Homo sapiens: one gene and its partners. Each later gene encodes a partner of the first gene's protein in a complex. Each region holds a gene or a part of one and is shown on either strand. Other genes may lie near its edges.

Region 1 (3,500 bases):
ATCTTCCATTTCCAAGGCACATATAGTGTTAACATAATCCCTCACATAATTTCACTAATTATCTTCAAGCTTTAAGCATATTTTAAAGGCCTTAAGAACAAAAAGGAGAATCTCATTTTTCAGCATTTTTATTAGCTTTTTTAACCAAAGAATTTTGTGCTAACTCCAGCTGGGCACGGTGGCTCACACCTGTAATCCCAACACTTTCGGAGACTGAGGCAGGAGGATCTCTTGAGCCCAGGAGTATTTAAATAATAATAAAAACAAACGGCTGGGCATGGTGGTTCACACCTGTAATCCCAGCACTTTGGGAGACCGAGGCAGGTTAATCATTTGAGGCCAGGAGTTCAAGACCAGCTTGGCCAACATGGTGAAACCCCGTTTCTACTAAAAATACAGAAATTAGCAGGGCGTGGTGGTGCACGCCTGTAGTCCCAGCTACTTGGAAGGCTGAGGCACAATTGCTTGAACCCAAGAGGCGGAGGTTGCAGTGAGCCAAGACTACACCACTGCACTCCAGCCTGGGCAAGAGAGCAAGACCCTGTCTCAAAAATATATATATAATATTAATAATAAAAACAAGCAAAAAAGTTAAATCCTTCACACTACATAAATTTTTTCCCCTCATGCTATGTCCTTGATAAAGATGAAGACAGTAATTATAAATTCCTAAACACAAAAATATAACACTACCAAAAGTTAATTTTTTATGGGGAAGGCTTTCTAAATAACCTTTACCAATTTGGGCTATTTGGGAGAGTAAAGGAAAGACCACACTCCACAGCGGGCTATACCAATAGTTCACTACTATTTTGTGGTCTACATTTCCTGGTGAAAAAATTAAAAACATTTTTAAAAATATAAACATGGCCAGGTGCAGAGCCTCACACCTGTAATCCCAGCACTTTGGGAGGTAGGCCAAAGCAGGAGGATCACTTGAGACCAGCCTGGGCAACATGGCAAAACCCTGTCTCTACAAAAACTACAAATTTTTTTTAATTAAATAAATAAGCAACAAACATGACAATTTAACAAACTGGGACTTACCTTTCTCATTGGTGGTGTTCCATTCTTAATTTTTAAAAGCAACTTCATTATTTTTCTCTCTTTTTGCTCTTCTGGACTAAGTGTTGATTCATCAACATCAACCTATAGTAAAAAGAAAAAAATGTTAAGGGAAGTTGAAATGTTATGATTTATAATTCTGGAACACAATTAATAGTTTATTTCTGCTAGTATCACTTACCAATAGTTTATCAAAGTATTGAATATCATCAGGTTTTAAAAATGGAAGATTTCCAGATGGCTGGTCATTAACACTTTTCATAGTTCGATCTTCAGTTTGCATGTGGAAACCAGTCATACCACCCAAAGGTGTTGGAGTAGCTGTCAGCTTTCGAGCTGGAGTTCGAATAGGAACATAACCAGCTGGAGGAGGAAGTACCTAATAAAAGTTATAAGACAGTTTAGGATTTTCTTAACTTAAAAAACAGCATAATGAACAATATTTGCACTTAAAATATTTTAGTTTATTAGCTAATAAGGTTTTTATTTGCTTGGAGACAACATCTATCTTGCTTTTCTATCTTAATTAGAAACTTAAAATATATACTTCTCATCCACTAACTGATTATATCCGTGGTGTAGGGAACTGAGGAAACACAAGAGAAGAGCTTAGAAAATACTAATCACATTCAAACATGTTGTGGGTCAAAATGTCAAATTATTAAAAATTTGAAAATTATAAAATCTGAGTCAGCAATTCCAAAAAATGCTGTAGTCGAGCAAATAATGTTTCATAAGATTTATATAAAATGGAAATAAGCTCATATGGGGCATAAAACATAAAAAATTATATTTTAGTATTAAAATGTCACATAAATTCTTGCACTACAAAATCTTTTAAGTGTAAAACTCTACAAAAATTAGTTAAATGCATAAAAACTAAAACCAAAATGTTTGCCAAAGCCCTATAAAATACACACCACCTGATCAAACCTTTTGCAAAACGAGTAAAATTTCAAAAAATGCAGGCTGAAAATCACAAAGAAATTTTTTTTTTTTTTTTTAAAGCTGGTAACAGACTTCAAAAAAAAAAAACAACTTCTGGACAGGCCAGGATTACAGCACTTTGGGAGGCTGAGATGGGAGGAACGCTTGAGCCCAGGAGTTTGAGACCAGCCTTGGCAACATGGCAAGACCCCATCTCTATTTTATATAATTTAATATATAGTAAAAGAAAAAAAATACAACTTCTTGGAGAGGTCAATAAACCTATACACGTCTTCTCCAGTGAGCCTAAAATTGTTTTGTCTATTAAAGATTAAATTATGTTAAATTTATATTGATGCTATCTGTACTTTGCACAGATATTTTTTGTTGCTAGTTAACGTCTGCACCAGCACAGACCACTAAGCATTTTGGATAAAGTGGATACTCTAAAGATGTGAGGCCTAGAGAAATCAATGTCAAGTCCACAGGCATCACTTGCCATTAAGGATTTAAAGGTCTACTATATTTTTATATTCACTAGTAAGGACGTTGCTTATTAGTAGGATTCACTAAGGGAGACTTTTCCTCCTAGTGACACTAAGGAAATCAATGACTACGACTGAGAAAGACATGCAGGCAGTCAACAGTAAGTTCTGTCTATCTATACCCACAGTTCTATCTATACCCACAGCATTATGTGGAGGCTACAAAAAGCTTTAAGGCAAAACTTCATGCAAACTTGAAACAAATACTCTAACACAAATAACAGGGGATCAAAAACAAAACAAGGCTGGACACAGTGGCTCATGCCTATAATCCCCAGCAGTGTGGGAGGCCAATGTGGGTACTTTGAGCCTAGGAGTTTGAGACCAGCCTGGCAACACAGTGAGACTCCCGTATCTACAAAAAATAAAAAAATTAGCCAGGTATGGTAGTGCATGCCTGTAGCCCCAGCTACTCAGGAGGCTGAGGCAGGAGGATCACTTGAGCCCAGGAGTCCAAGGCTGCAGTGAGCTATGTCAGCGCCACTGCTCTCCAGTACGGGCAACACAGTGAGACCCTGTCTCTAAAACAAAACAAAACAACAAAAAACATACTCATGAACTGTTAAAAATCAATAGTCATTAACAGAAAAAGCTCTGTAAAGGCCATCAGATGACTTACAAAGTTATCTGGTTCCCCCTGGTTATGATGTCAGCTATACGACCACAGACTATCTTCAGACTAACAAATACTCCCTGAGTACCAGGTACCTAGAAAATTTTATAGTTCAAAATAAATTTTAGGTTGATATGATAAAAAGGCCAGGCACGGTAACTCACGCCTGTAATCCCAGCACTTTGGGAGGCTGAGAGGGACGGATCACTTGAGGTCAGGAGTTCAAGATCAGCCTGGCCAGCATGGCGAAACCCTGTCTCTACTAGAAATACAAAGATGAGCCGGGCATGGTGGTGGACACCTGTAATCCCAGGTACCTGGGAAACTCAGGCAAGAGAATCGCTTAAACC
Region 2 (3,500 bases), on another chromosome or scaffold:
AAAGTTGGTGATTTGAGTTGTTTCCCATGTGCTAGATTGCATTCACAGAGTGGATTGAACCACCTAAACGAGAAAGAAAAGCCAACTATGCCGTTGATGCATATTTCAGGGAAGCTCTTCGTGTTAGTGAACCTAAAGCACCCAAGGTGAGTTGACTGACACAGCATAAAAATATCTAAAAATTTTGAAAATGTAATTTTTTTCATATATTCTTGCAAAAAGATTGATAATTAGATTTTGTGTTTCTTTTTTTTTTTTTTTTTTGAGACAGAGTCTCACTCTGTTACCAGGAGTTCAGTGGTGCGATCTCAGCTCACTGCAACCTCCGCCTCCCGGGTTCAAGCAATTCTCCTGCCTCACCCTTCCGAGTAGCTGGGACTACAGGCACCCACCACCACCCCTGGCTAATTTTTGTAATTTTAGTAGTGATGGGGTTTCACCATGTTGGCCAGGATGGTCTTGATCTCTTGACCTCATGATCCGCCCACCTTGGTCTCCCAAAGTATTGGGATTACAGGCGTGAGCCACTGCCTCTTTCCTACATTTTGCATTTCTTTAGAGTGTACTCTCTTCTGTTTTTAGTTAACATTTTTCAAAAATTAATTTTGAATCTGTGCATTTAAAATTAAGATATAAATTCAGTTTTATTGAAAGATGCATTCAGTTGCTTGCAGAATTGGCTGTTGTGGTTTATGAAGTGAGGACTAAGGATACATTTAAAATGAAATTTCTTTTTTATGGATAACACTTATTTTTGTTTTTCTTTAGGCTCCTCGACCTCCAAAACAACCCAATGTTCAGGATTTCCAGTTCTTTCCTCCACGTTTATTTGAATTACTGGAAAAAGAAATTCTGTTTTACAGAAAAACTATTGGGTACAAGGTAATTGAAATTATCTGCCTTTCTGTTCATTCCTATCCAGAAATTATGGAAGGTATAAACATTAGTTATAAATATTTATCTAATTTGGACCTAGTGTGAAACAATACTGCTTTAGCCTAGTCTAGTTGTATGTATGAAATACATAAACTTGGGTCTGTTTTTCTTTAACAAGAAAAAATAAGACTTCATGACCAATCTGGTTTGTTTTTAACATAATACATGCAATGTATCAGTATATTTTCTTTCCTGGTTGAATTGAAACTTGTGAAATGTCAGTTAGTTGGTTCATCACATGCTCTTTAAAATTTACTGATTTGATGGCATAGAAAAATATCTTTTAGGTACCTCGAAATCCTGAGCTGCCTAATGCAGCACAGGCACAAAAAGAAGAACAGCTTAAAATTGATGAAGCTGAATCCCTTAATGATGAAGAGTTAGAGGAAAAAGAGAAGCTTCTAACACAGGTATAGCCTTTAATCAGTACAAACTTTAGTAACAGTTTGTTGTAAAGGACTGTGTTAGGTTATGTTGGGGCATAAAAATAAATACAAGTTTCTGCTTTTAAAGATGGAATAATTGGAGACAATAAAGTATGGGCATGTGGATAAATGCTCCATCTGATTGTCACTAGTTGAGGTAGTTGAGAAGACTACAGATTTTATTACTCTGGCTCGGTAGAGTGGGTATCTTTTTTATCACCTTACTTTGAATGTTCCCGTCTTTCCTATGAATTTTCCACATTGCTACCCAGTCACCATTTTCAACTATAAATCTTGGCTTGGTTATTTTTTAAACATCCTTTGGTGTTCATCAAGGTCTTTCAGAATCTGGCCTTTGACTTACCTTTAAAGCTTCATTTTCCTTCCATTTTTCTACTTGCTCATATTTTTGCCCTTTATGTTATTCACTCTTTCTGGCCAACTGCTAGTAATCCTTCAAAGCTCAGTGAAACTGTCACCTTTTCATACAGTATTCCTTACTCTCAGCCACTCATATTTAATTGCTTGGGTATTTGAGCAATATATAATGTGTTGTCAAAAGTGTATATTTATGTACACGAAAAGTTACCACTCTAAAAGAACTTAATAAACTAGTGAAAATTTGTTTTTGTAATATTTAGAAGGTTTGCTAATAGCATGTTTTCCAAGTTTAATGTGCTGTGATTAAATATTTTGTTTCTGTTCCTGTGAAGGGATTTACCAATTGGAATAAGAGAGATTTTAACCAGTTTATCAAAGCTAATGAGAAGTGGGGTCGTGATGATATTGAAAATATAGCAAGAGAAGTAGAAGGCAAAACTCCAGAAGAAGTCATTGAATATTCAGGTAATTCTTTTAAGCAGGCTGTTGGAGTTTAGTAAGAGCTGTTGGAAGGTTCTTGTTTTCTTATTCTGAATTATGTTGTGATTAGCTAATTTTGTCACAGTGTAGTTAGTACCTTCTTCATTATTTTTTACAAATTAGAAAATGTTCTGTTTCCAGAAATGGCGTAATGGTTTCCTTTTTAAAAATTTTTTAACCCTAGCTAACTCTAGCGACAGCAAAGAAAATCAGAATAAGTCACTGGATAATTGCCCTTGCATTTTTATCTTAATTTCTCTGCATAACTTCAAGTATTATGTGTTGTGTTTCCTGAAGTCAGTTGTATTATTAGGTTAACATGTGAGGGTATGCTGTGGTGAGTCTGCTTAGAATAGCAGAAATTTAAGAATTAGAAGATAAATAATCCAGTTGATCCCATTTTTTTTACATTAAAGAAATAAAAATATAAATGATTTGTTTACTTTGTCCAACTTTTACAGCTGTGTTTTGGGAAAGGTGCAACGAGCTCCAGGACATAGAGAAGATTATGGCTCAGATTGAAAGGGGAGAGGCGAGAATTCAAAGAAGAATAAGCATCAAGAAAGCACTTGACACAAAGGTAATTTGCTTGTTAATAAGTTAGGTAGTTAATAAAATAACTCCTAGCTGTGAGTATGAGAGAGTGACTTTTTATAAAGGAAAAGAAGTAAGGGTTTACAATTTAAAATTTCTTCAGAGTAGCATTCAAACATGGTATTGTCAGCAGAATTTACCTATACACTAGACTGATAGATCTGAGTCAAAGACACTAAGATTAGCTTTTTACTAAGTAGAATCAGGAAGTCTTAGTCTGTATTTCTCTTTATAATAATAAAGACTATAAAGGTCTTTCGGGACAAAGATTATATAAAGCAATTGAAGTGCTCTAGATAGAAAATTCTGATTTGAAATGCAACATTTTAGCTAATTATACTAAAGCTGAGTTTGAAATACAGATTATATAGGATTTGTATTTTATATAATATAAAATCTGACTTTCATAGATTGGACGGTACAAAGCACCTTTTCATCAGCTGAGAATATCATATGGTACTAACAAAGGAAAAAACTATACTGAAGAAGAAGATCGTTTTCTGATTTGTATGCTTCACAAACTTGGATTTGACAAAGAAAATGTTTATGATGAATTGCGACAGTGTATTCGCAACTCTCCTCAGTTCAGATTTGACTGGTTTCTTAAGTCCAGAACTGCAATGGTGAGTGCTCAGGGCTTTTTTGTGTAATGTAGCAGAGTTCAGAGTAAGTGTCATCTTTGGT
Region 3 (3,948 bases), on another chromosome or scaffold:
GAGGACCTCCGGCAGGATCTCCTGCAATGTGGCCTTCGAGACCTAAGGATGGAGGGAGAAGAAATCGTGACTTCCTCTGCGGGGTGAGCCTGGTGGATCCTGTTCTACCTGCTCCTGACACGGGGCCACCTGGTGAGGTATCAGAGTCATCAGAGGCCAGTTGCTAACAAAACTCAAATTCCCAGGCAGCGGGGTTTTTGACAAGCATCCCACTGACGCTAACTGGCCCCTGGAGGTACCTGCCCCCCACCCCTTATTTTTTTTTTTTAAGACAGAGTCTCACTTTGCCACCCAGGCTGAGTATAGTGGTGTGATCTTGGCTCACTGCAACCTCCGCCTCCCAGGTTGAAGCAATTCTCCTGCCTCAGGTGGGATTAAAGGTGTGCGCCATCACACCCAGCTAATTTTTGTATTTTTAGTAGAGATGGGGTTTCACCATGTTGGCCAGGCTGGTCTTGAACTCCTGACCTCAAGTGATCTGCCCACCTCGGCCTCCCAAAGTTCTGGGATTACAGGCGTGAGCCACCATGCCCGGTCAAAGCTACCCTTTTAATTATTCCTTTTTTTGGTATTTCAGAGTACTAGCTCATTTCATACACGAGGAGCCCTAGGTGGAGAGCTGGGATTCGAATTCAGGTCCTTCTGGCTCTGAGGTCAAGACTGCACAGTAAGCCCTGGCCTGGAGACCTGCTACCCCTGCCTTTCTCTTCGGTGACAAAAGGGCCTAGGGTGCTACCTTCCCAAGTAGGGCAGTGGAGGCCCACAAGGGGCCAGCCTTGACCAGGATAACAATGGCAAACGTTTTATATACTTGCCACGTGCCAGGCACAGTTCCAGAGCTGCACTGCCCAATACGGTAGCCACAGCCACACAGGGCTGCTGAGCGCCTGAAAGGTGGCTAATCTGAACAGGGGTGTGCCTAAGTGTAACATACACACTGGATTTTGGAGACACCTGACAAAAAGAGTGTAAGATATCTCAACACTTTTTTATACCAATGCACACTGAAATAATATTTTAGATATACCAGATAAAGTCAAATGTCACTAAATGTTACTAAATGACACCTGTTTCTTTTTACCTTTTCAACAAAGTCACTGAAACGCTTCAAATTATACATCTTTGTATTTCTATGGAACAGTGCTGTTCCAGATTCTCATCCGAGCCCCCTTGATGTCTCTGTAACAAAGTGTTGCCTGGGCCCGCACAGCTGGGGAGCTCATACCTCGGAGAGGATGTCCACCAGGGCCTTCCGGGGCTGCTCCTGCAAGTGGTTTTGGTACTGGGCCAGGGCCTGCAGCAGCTTCACCGACTTCATCAGTGCCTCCTGGTCCTGGTCCCCACAGAGGGACAGAGGGTATGAGCAGGGCACACGACTGTCCCCCACCCATCCCAAGCCAGCCTACATTCCCCCAGTCCCTCCAAAGCTCTTACCTTCACCAGCCGACCTGACTGAAAGAGGGCGAGCACTCCAAACAGGTTTGCAAAGAGAGCAGGTCTCAGCATTGCCTAGAAAAGGATTCCAGGCACAGGCATGAGGGGCCCTGGAACTCCCCATTCCCCAAGCCTCCCACCCCTGGGGCTGCTGACCTCCCTGGCCCCACTCTCACCTTCTTCACCTGATGCAGGTCATATTTTTCTTGTATCTGCTGCAGGATGCTGCACAAGGGGAGGTCTTCAAAAGACTGTAACAGCTGCCAGGAGTTGTGTGGCAGGAGGAAGAGGGTTCAGGAGAGTGGCCCAACTACGTCTTCACAAACCTTAACCTCCCTTCCCCCTTCAACTTCTCCCAAGAAGCCTCAGGTCCCTAGTCCCACCTTCTATGTACCTTCTATGGCCCCTAGATTACTAGTCTGAAATGCTCAGCCACTGGGTCTTCTCTCCGCACGTGGTCTGAGCTCCCCTCAGGCTGATCCTGCAGGCCTGGGTCTTTATTGCTCTGCCCCTTGTCAAGGCGCCTCAGAGAGTGGTCTACTCCAATCAGCTGAATGCCTCTGCAGGCCTAAGGGAGCCCACCCAGCGCTCACTGCTCCCAGAAAGTGTACCTAAGAGGCCGGGCAACCCAAGCACCAAATAGAAAACCTGGCCAGGCCTTGCTCACACCTTCTCCACTTTCATGAAGAGGCCTCCCTCAGGTTGGCCTCCAGTCTGCTCTGCCACTCCCGACCTCTCTCTCGGGCTGCCCCTCCGCCACAGCTGAGACACCACACCCGCCCTCCTCATACCCCACCATTTTGACCTGGATGGCTGGGACCCTGCCAGGAGCACCACCTCACCTGTGCCAGGGCCAAACTGTAGCAGGGCCGGGCTGTTTCTCGCCCGACCCCGAGTCCCGTGATTAGACGCTTCAGGGCATATTTCATCTCGGACCCCTGCGGAACCAAGCACACCCTCGTGTTCAATGGTGACAACAAGGTGCACGCCCCCGCGCACCCTGGCATCCAGGTTCGCGACCACGTGCCCCCAGTCTCAACTCCCTGGGCCCGCCGCCGCTTCCTTGCCGGGATATGCGCAGCCTCTGCCCCAGACCCCGCCACTCCACCTTCGGCCTGCCACGCAGATACTCCAGCAGCTTCTCCGTGGCCGCAAGTCGCGTCTCCTGCTCAGGCTTCGCAATGTCCCAGAAGAAGTCCAAGAACTCGCGACTGTGCTTCAATAGGCCATAGCGGTCGGCAGGCCGGGCGCCACTCTGCGTCGCTTCTCCAGGCGACATCGGCTGGGCGGGATCCCGGCTCTCCATCTCCGCCACACTCACCGAAACACGAAACACGTGTGCTCCGGCCCCAGCCGCTTCCAGGTCAGGGCACGGCGCATGCGCACCGGTTTGTGTCGGCTCGGAGGCGGAAGAACCCGGAGGGGCGGGGGAACCAAGAGAGACCGGCCCAGAGTTAAAAGAGCGGCATTTCCGCCGTAGCTCTGAGCGGAAGTCCCTCGCCTAGCGGCGTCCCATCTTTCCCAGCCTTCTGCTCACACCCGCTCCGCCCTGGCGGCTGTGGCATCTGCCCCTTTGGAGCCCCAGGGGGGCATTTCTAAGGGCCCATCTCGGAAACAAACCTAGGTGTAGCACTTCGATCCGACTCGTCCCAGAGCGGCCCCTGCGCTCCGAACATTGAGCCATTCAACAATTACTGGGCTCCTGCTGGCGTGCCGTGCTAGGCGGTTGGAACAAAGCCTCTGCTCTCGTGGAGGAACACGGAGCCAAATGCATTTAAAAAGATCATAATTATGAAGAGAATTAGGAATGCAAGGGTCAGGAGGAGGCTTTTAAGTGCTGGAACGTGAATACATCACCCGTTAAAAACACGGCTAATTACTATTCAATAGGGTCTCCAATAATGATTTGAGGGGTTGGTCAGGGAAGGCCTCTGTGAGGAAGTGGCATTTGGGATGAGAGCTGAGTGACAAGAAGGGCCCCCCTCCCCCGTACTCCTGCAAGGATCTAAGGGGACGAAATCCCAAGCCTTGCAACTACAGAGACCCAGGGCTGGAGGGGCTGAGGCTGGCGAGAAGCAAGGCTGCATGGGGCCCCGGGCTGGGATTTCATTCTGAGGGTGATGGGAAGTCACTGGTGAGTTTAATGCAGGGGCAAGCCTGGATCCGATTTACATTTTAACAAGATGATGCTGGCTGCTGTGTGGGGGATGGACTGTAGGTCTGCGCAGGTGGAAGCACGGGAAGACCATTTAGAGATAGTGGTGGACTGGACCCAGGGAAAATGAGAACAGGTCAGATTTGGGCTGATGTGGAGCAGGTGGGGTGGGTGATGGAGTTAGATGTCGGGGGAGAGGAAATGAGGGGGATGCCAGGTTTGAGACTGAAATAACTGGGTACATTGTGGTGCCATTACGGAGAAGAATTTTCTTGGGAGTGGGAGGTAAAGGTGGTGGGATCAAACGGTCTATTAAATCAGAGAAGCCTTTTACAATGGCAGGGGAGGGGAACTGCTAC
Region 4 (3,500 bases), on another chromosome or scaffold:
GAAAATGAGTTGATTACAGTAAACAATAAATTTAATTTTTAAGTGCTTTCTCAAGGAAGTTTTGCTAAATTCTAAAATTGAAAACCATAAAATTACCTAACATCAAGAATGTTAAAATGCGCATTACAGAATTAATATTTATTTCTGGGATTGAGCATCTTTTATATTCTTTTATTTCTACCTTTGTTACTTTATTTTCTGCAATAAGCAGAAACATTAAGGTAAAATTCCATAACATAACCTTAAGGTATCCAATTGTGTAAATGTTTGTGATAACTTTAGGCAATATTTTTCTTGCAGAGACTAGAACGACAGGTCCTTTACCTCCCAGGAACCTCCAGTCTAGGGGTCACTGTCACCTACACAAAAATTAAGAAAAAGTGGCTGCTTTGTATAATATGGTACTCTTGAGCTCTCTGCAAAGAAACCACAGGATAACCTAGATTGCTCCAACAACGTACCCTTCTAAAGGCACACTAGGAAACAGCAAAATTAGGTCACTCCAGGAACTTGAAGTTGGTGGATCAAAGACATTTCTCAGAGAAGATTCTCTATAAGAAATCGTGAATGCATACACATATCCTTGCTATGTGAGATACTACCATTAACAACTATTATCAGAACCTTAATCCATGTGGATAAATTCTTTGATAGCACCGTTTGGAGAAAAGGTAACTCTCACTGTCCAAGCTCTTACTACTTGTTACATGATCTCCAGGTCTCAAATGTATTAGAAAAACATAATATCCCTCACAATCTCAGCTCAGAAACCAGACACAGGTAGCAAGGATGTAATCTGTATATCGAATTATTAGTATGAGGACTGAAACAGGTTCTGGATAAATCTATCCAGGAAAGTGAAAAGATGTTAAGTTATTCAAGCAGCCAATAAAAAAAAAAATGCAATTCCCAAAAGTAAACGAGGAGTTTTAAAACCAAAATCCAAAAAGTAGTAATATACAAATGCCTTAGAGTTTTCCTATACTACTCCAAAAATAGTTAAATCTATTAATCAAAATCCAGTGTCAACAGCATTATCTCTTTTTGGAAACAAAATCTGATTAACAAATAAAATAAGGTAAAGTACAATAGAAGGATAGGAAAGCAATCAATGATTAATGTTGTGTTGATTAAACCATTGAGAAATTGTTAAAGAGGAGAAAAAGGAAACTTCTTGTAGCATAGAAAATAGCTCTAGGCCAGACATAGTGGCTCATGCCTGTAATCCCAACACTTTGGGAGGCCAAGGTGAGAGGATCACATGAGCTCAGGAGTTTGTGACCATCTTGGACAATATAGTGAGCCCTTGTCTCTAAGAAAATGTAAAATTTAGCCACACATGGTAGCATACACCTATAGTCCCAGTTACTTGGGTGGCTGAGGTGAGAGGATCACCTGAGCCCAGGAGGTCAAGGTTGCATTGAGCCATGATTGTACCACAACACTCCAGTCTAGGCAACAGAGTAAAACGCTGTCTCCAAAAAAAAAAAAAAAAAAAAAAAAAAGAAAATAGCCTGAGCTCGATACTATCAGATTAAGGAGTAATCATCACAGAATCACATATGAAAAACTGACATAAGAGTTAAGATTCTATATGACAAGAAAAAACAGATTCTCACAGTGTGGTTCAAGGACTTTGGGGTTTCCTGAGACCTTTTTCGGAGTCTCCGAGGTAGAAACTATTTTCATAATAATAGCAACACTATTTATCTGCTCTTTTCACTGTGTTGACATTTGTACTAATTGCAAAAGCAAAGGAAAGCAAAGGTGGGTAAAATTGATGGCACCTTAGTACTAATCAAGGAAGCAACATATATTAGTCACTGTATTCCTCACAACCACACACCAGCAGAAACAAACAAGGCAAATGGTTTCACTTAATAATGTCCTTGATAAAACAATAAATACTGTGTTAACTCTCAAGTACATGTCTTTCTAATATCTGTGACAAAATGGAAGATATACATAAATATGGCTACAACTGAAGTTCAATGGTTTTCTGAAGGAAAAGCATTTGTGTATCTGAGTTGTGAGCTAAACACGCTCCAAGCTCCTTTTTCATAGAACCCCACATTTTTTTTTTTTTTTTGAGACAGTCTCGCTCTGTCGCCCAGGCTGGAGTGCAGCAGCACGATCTCGGCTTACTGCAAGCTTCACCTCCCAGAGAACACCACTTTTTAAAAGAACAAATATGGCTAACTCAGACTTAGGTATTTGATAGAGATGTTTTCAAACATGAACAAGGTGAGCTTGTCACTTCAAGGAAAACTGAGAGCATTTATCGCCAATGATAAACGTTATGATTTCAAGTGGGAACTAGAATTCTGGAAAATTCACATCTACTACTGTGAACTTGATAGTTTACCAAGGCCTAAGTAATTTTTCTGATGAGATGATATTTATATTAATGAGCATGATTTAATGACAGTGTTCAATAAAACGTCAACATTTGGAAGACATAATTCAGGGAACCAATATTTACAAGCGGTAAATGCATGTTACAAAACTATACATACAAGACCCAAGTTAATTAACCTGGTTTCAGACCTACATTAAACATTACAACTAATCTTTAGGAAACTACAACTTATGTAGAGTTTTGGTATTGTATGGTATCAAAAAGAGAATATACACAATTATCTAAAAAGACTTTAAAAATATTCTTTTTATGTGAGGCTCGGTTTTCTTCATATACTTATTATTTTGAGAGAGGATCTCATTCTGTCACCTAGGATGGAATGCAGTGGCATGAAAATAGCTCACTGCAGCACTGACCTCCTGAGTTCAGGCTTCCACCTCAGCCTCCCAAGTGGCTGGGATTACACGAGCGTGCCTCAGCGCCTGGCTAATTTCTTCTTGAGACAGTCTCACTCTGTCACCCAGGCTGGTCTTGAACTCCTGAGCTCAAGTGATCCACCTGCCTCGGCCTCCCAAAGGGCAGGGATTACAGGCATAAGCTACTGCATCAGGCCCTTCATAGATTTTAAACAAAACAATACATTGCAAAAGACTGAATGCGGCCAGGCACGGTAGCTCACGCCTGTAATCCCAGCACTCTGGGAGGCCGAGGCGGTCAGATCACCTGAGGTCAGGAGTTCGAGACCAGCCTGGCCAACATGGCAAAACCCCGTCTCTATTAAAAAGACAAAAATTAGCCAGGTATGGTGGCACACGCCTATAATCCCAGCTACTGTAGAGACTGAGGCAGAAGAATTGCTTGAACCTGGGAGACAGTGGTTGCAGTGAGCAGAGATTGTGCCACTGCACTCTAGCCTGGGCAACAGAGTGAGAATCTGTCTCAAAACAACAGTAACAACAACAGTAACAACAACAACAACACAAAAAGACTGAATGCAGAAGCAAATGGTAATCAAGCTGTTTTCTCTTAAGCCAGACATTAAACAGATGTACAAAAACATAAAATGCCACTCTTTCATTCTTTTGAAAAGTTATTTTTCCTAGAAAATATTATTTTTAACATTTTAAAATAAAAATTTTTC

What was found. Proteins that work in one complex are often made in the same cells at the same time.
Region 2: SF3B1 (region 1) and SMARCA5 share a complex: the UniProt entries of both Homo sapiens proteins name them as parts of the B-WICH complex.
Region 3: SF3B1 (region 1) and MYBBP1A share a complex: the UniProt entries of both Homo sapiens proteins name them as parts of the B-WICH complex.
Region 4: SF3B1 (region 1) and DEK share a complex: the UniProt entries of both Homo sapiens proteins name them as parts of the B-WICH complex.

What each region holds. Positions count from the first base shown.
Region 1 is NC_000002.12:197,404,029-197,407,528, forward strand, and holds part of SF3B1 (splicing factor 3B subunit 1), read right to left. Parts: intron 1,445-3,500; coding exon 1,247-1,444; intron 1,150-1,246; coding exon 1,048-1,149; intron 827-1,047; exon of another isoform or gene 690-826; intron 1-689. UniProt on the Homo sapiens protein: Component of the 17S U2 SnRNP complex of the spliceosome, a large ribonucleoprotein complex that removes introns from transcribed pre-mRNAs.
Region 2 is NC_000004.12:143,544,702-143,548,201, forward strand, and holds part of SMARCA5 (SWI/SNF-related matrix-associated actin-dependent regulator of chromatin subfamily A member 5), read left to right. Parts: intron 1-35; coding exon 36-146; intron 147-768; coding exon 769-882; intron 883-1,223; coding exon 1,224-1,346; intron 1,347-2,074; coding exon 2,075-2,207; intron 2,208-2,683; coding exon 2,684-2,802; intron 2,803-3,226; coding exon 3,227-3,439; intron 3,440-3,500. UniProt on the Homo sapiens protein: ATPase that possesses intrinsic ATP-dependent nucleosome-remodeling activity.
Region 3 is NC_000017.11:4,552,585-4,556,532, forward strand, and holds the start of MYBBP1A (myb-binding protein 1A), read right to left. Parts: upstream 2,801-3,948; 5' UTR 2,741-2,800; coding exon 2,543-2,740; intron 2,373-2,542; coding exon 2,277-2,372; intron 1,695-2,276; coding exon 1,611-1,694; intron 1,510-1,610; coding exon 1,435-1,509; intron 1,334-1,434; coding exon 1,226-1,333; intron 43-1,225; coding exon 1-42. UniProt on the Homo sapiens protein: May activate or repress transcription via interactions with sequence specific DNA-binding proteins. Repression may be mediated at least in part by histone deacetylase activity (HDAC activity).
Region 4 is NC_000006.12:18,251,031-18,254,530, forward strand, and holds part of DEK (protein DEK), read right to left. Parts: intron 1-3,500. UniProt on the Homo sapiens protein: Involved in chromatin organization.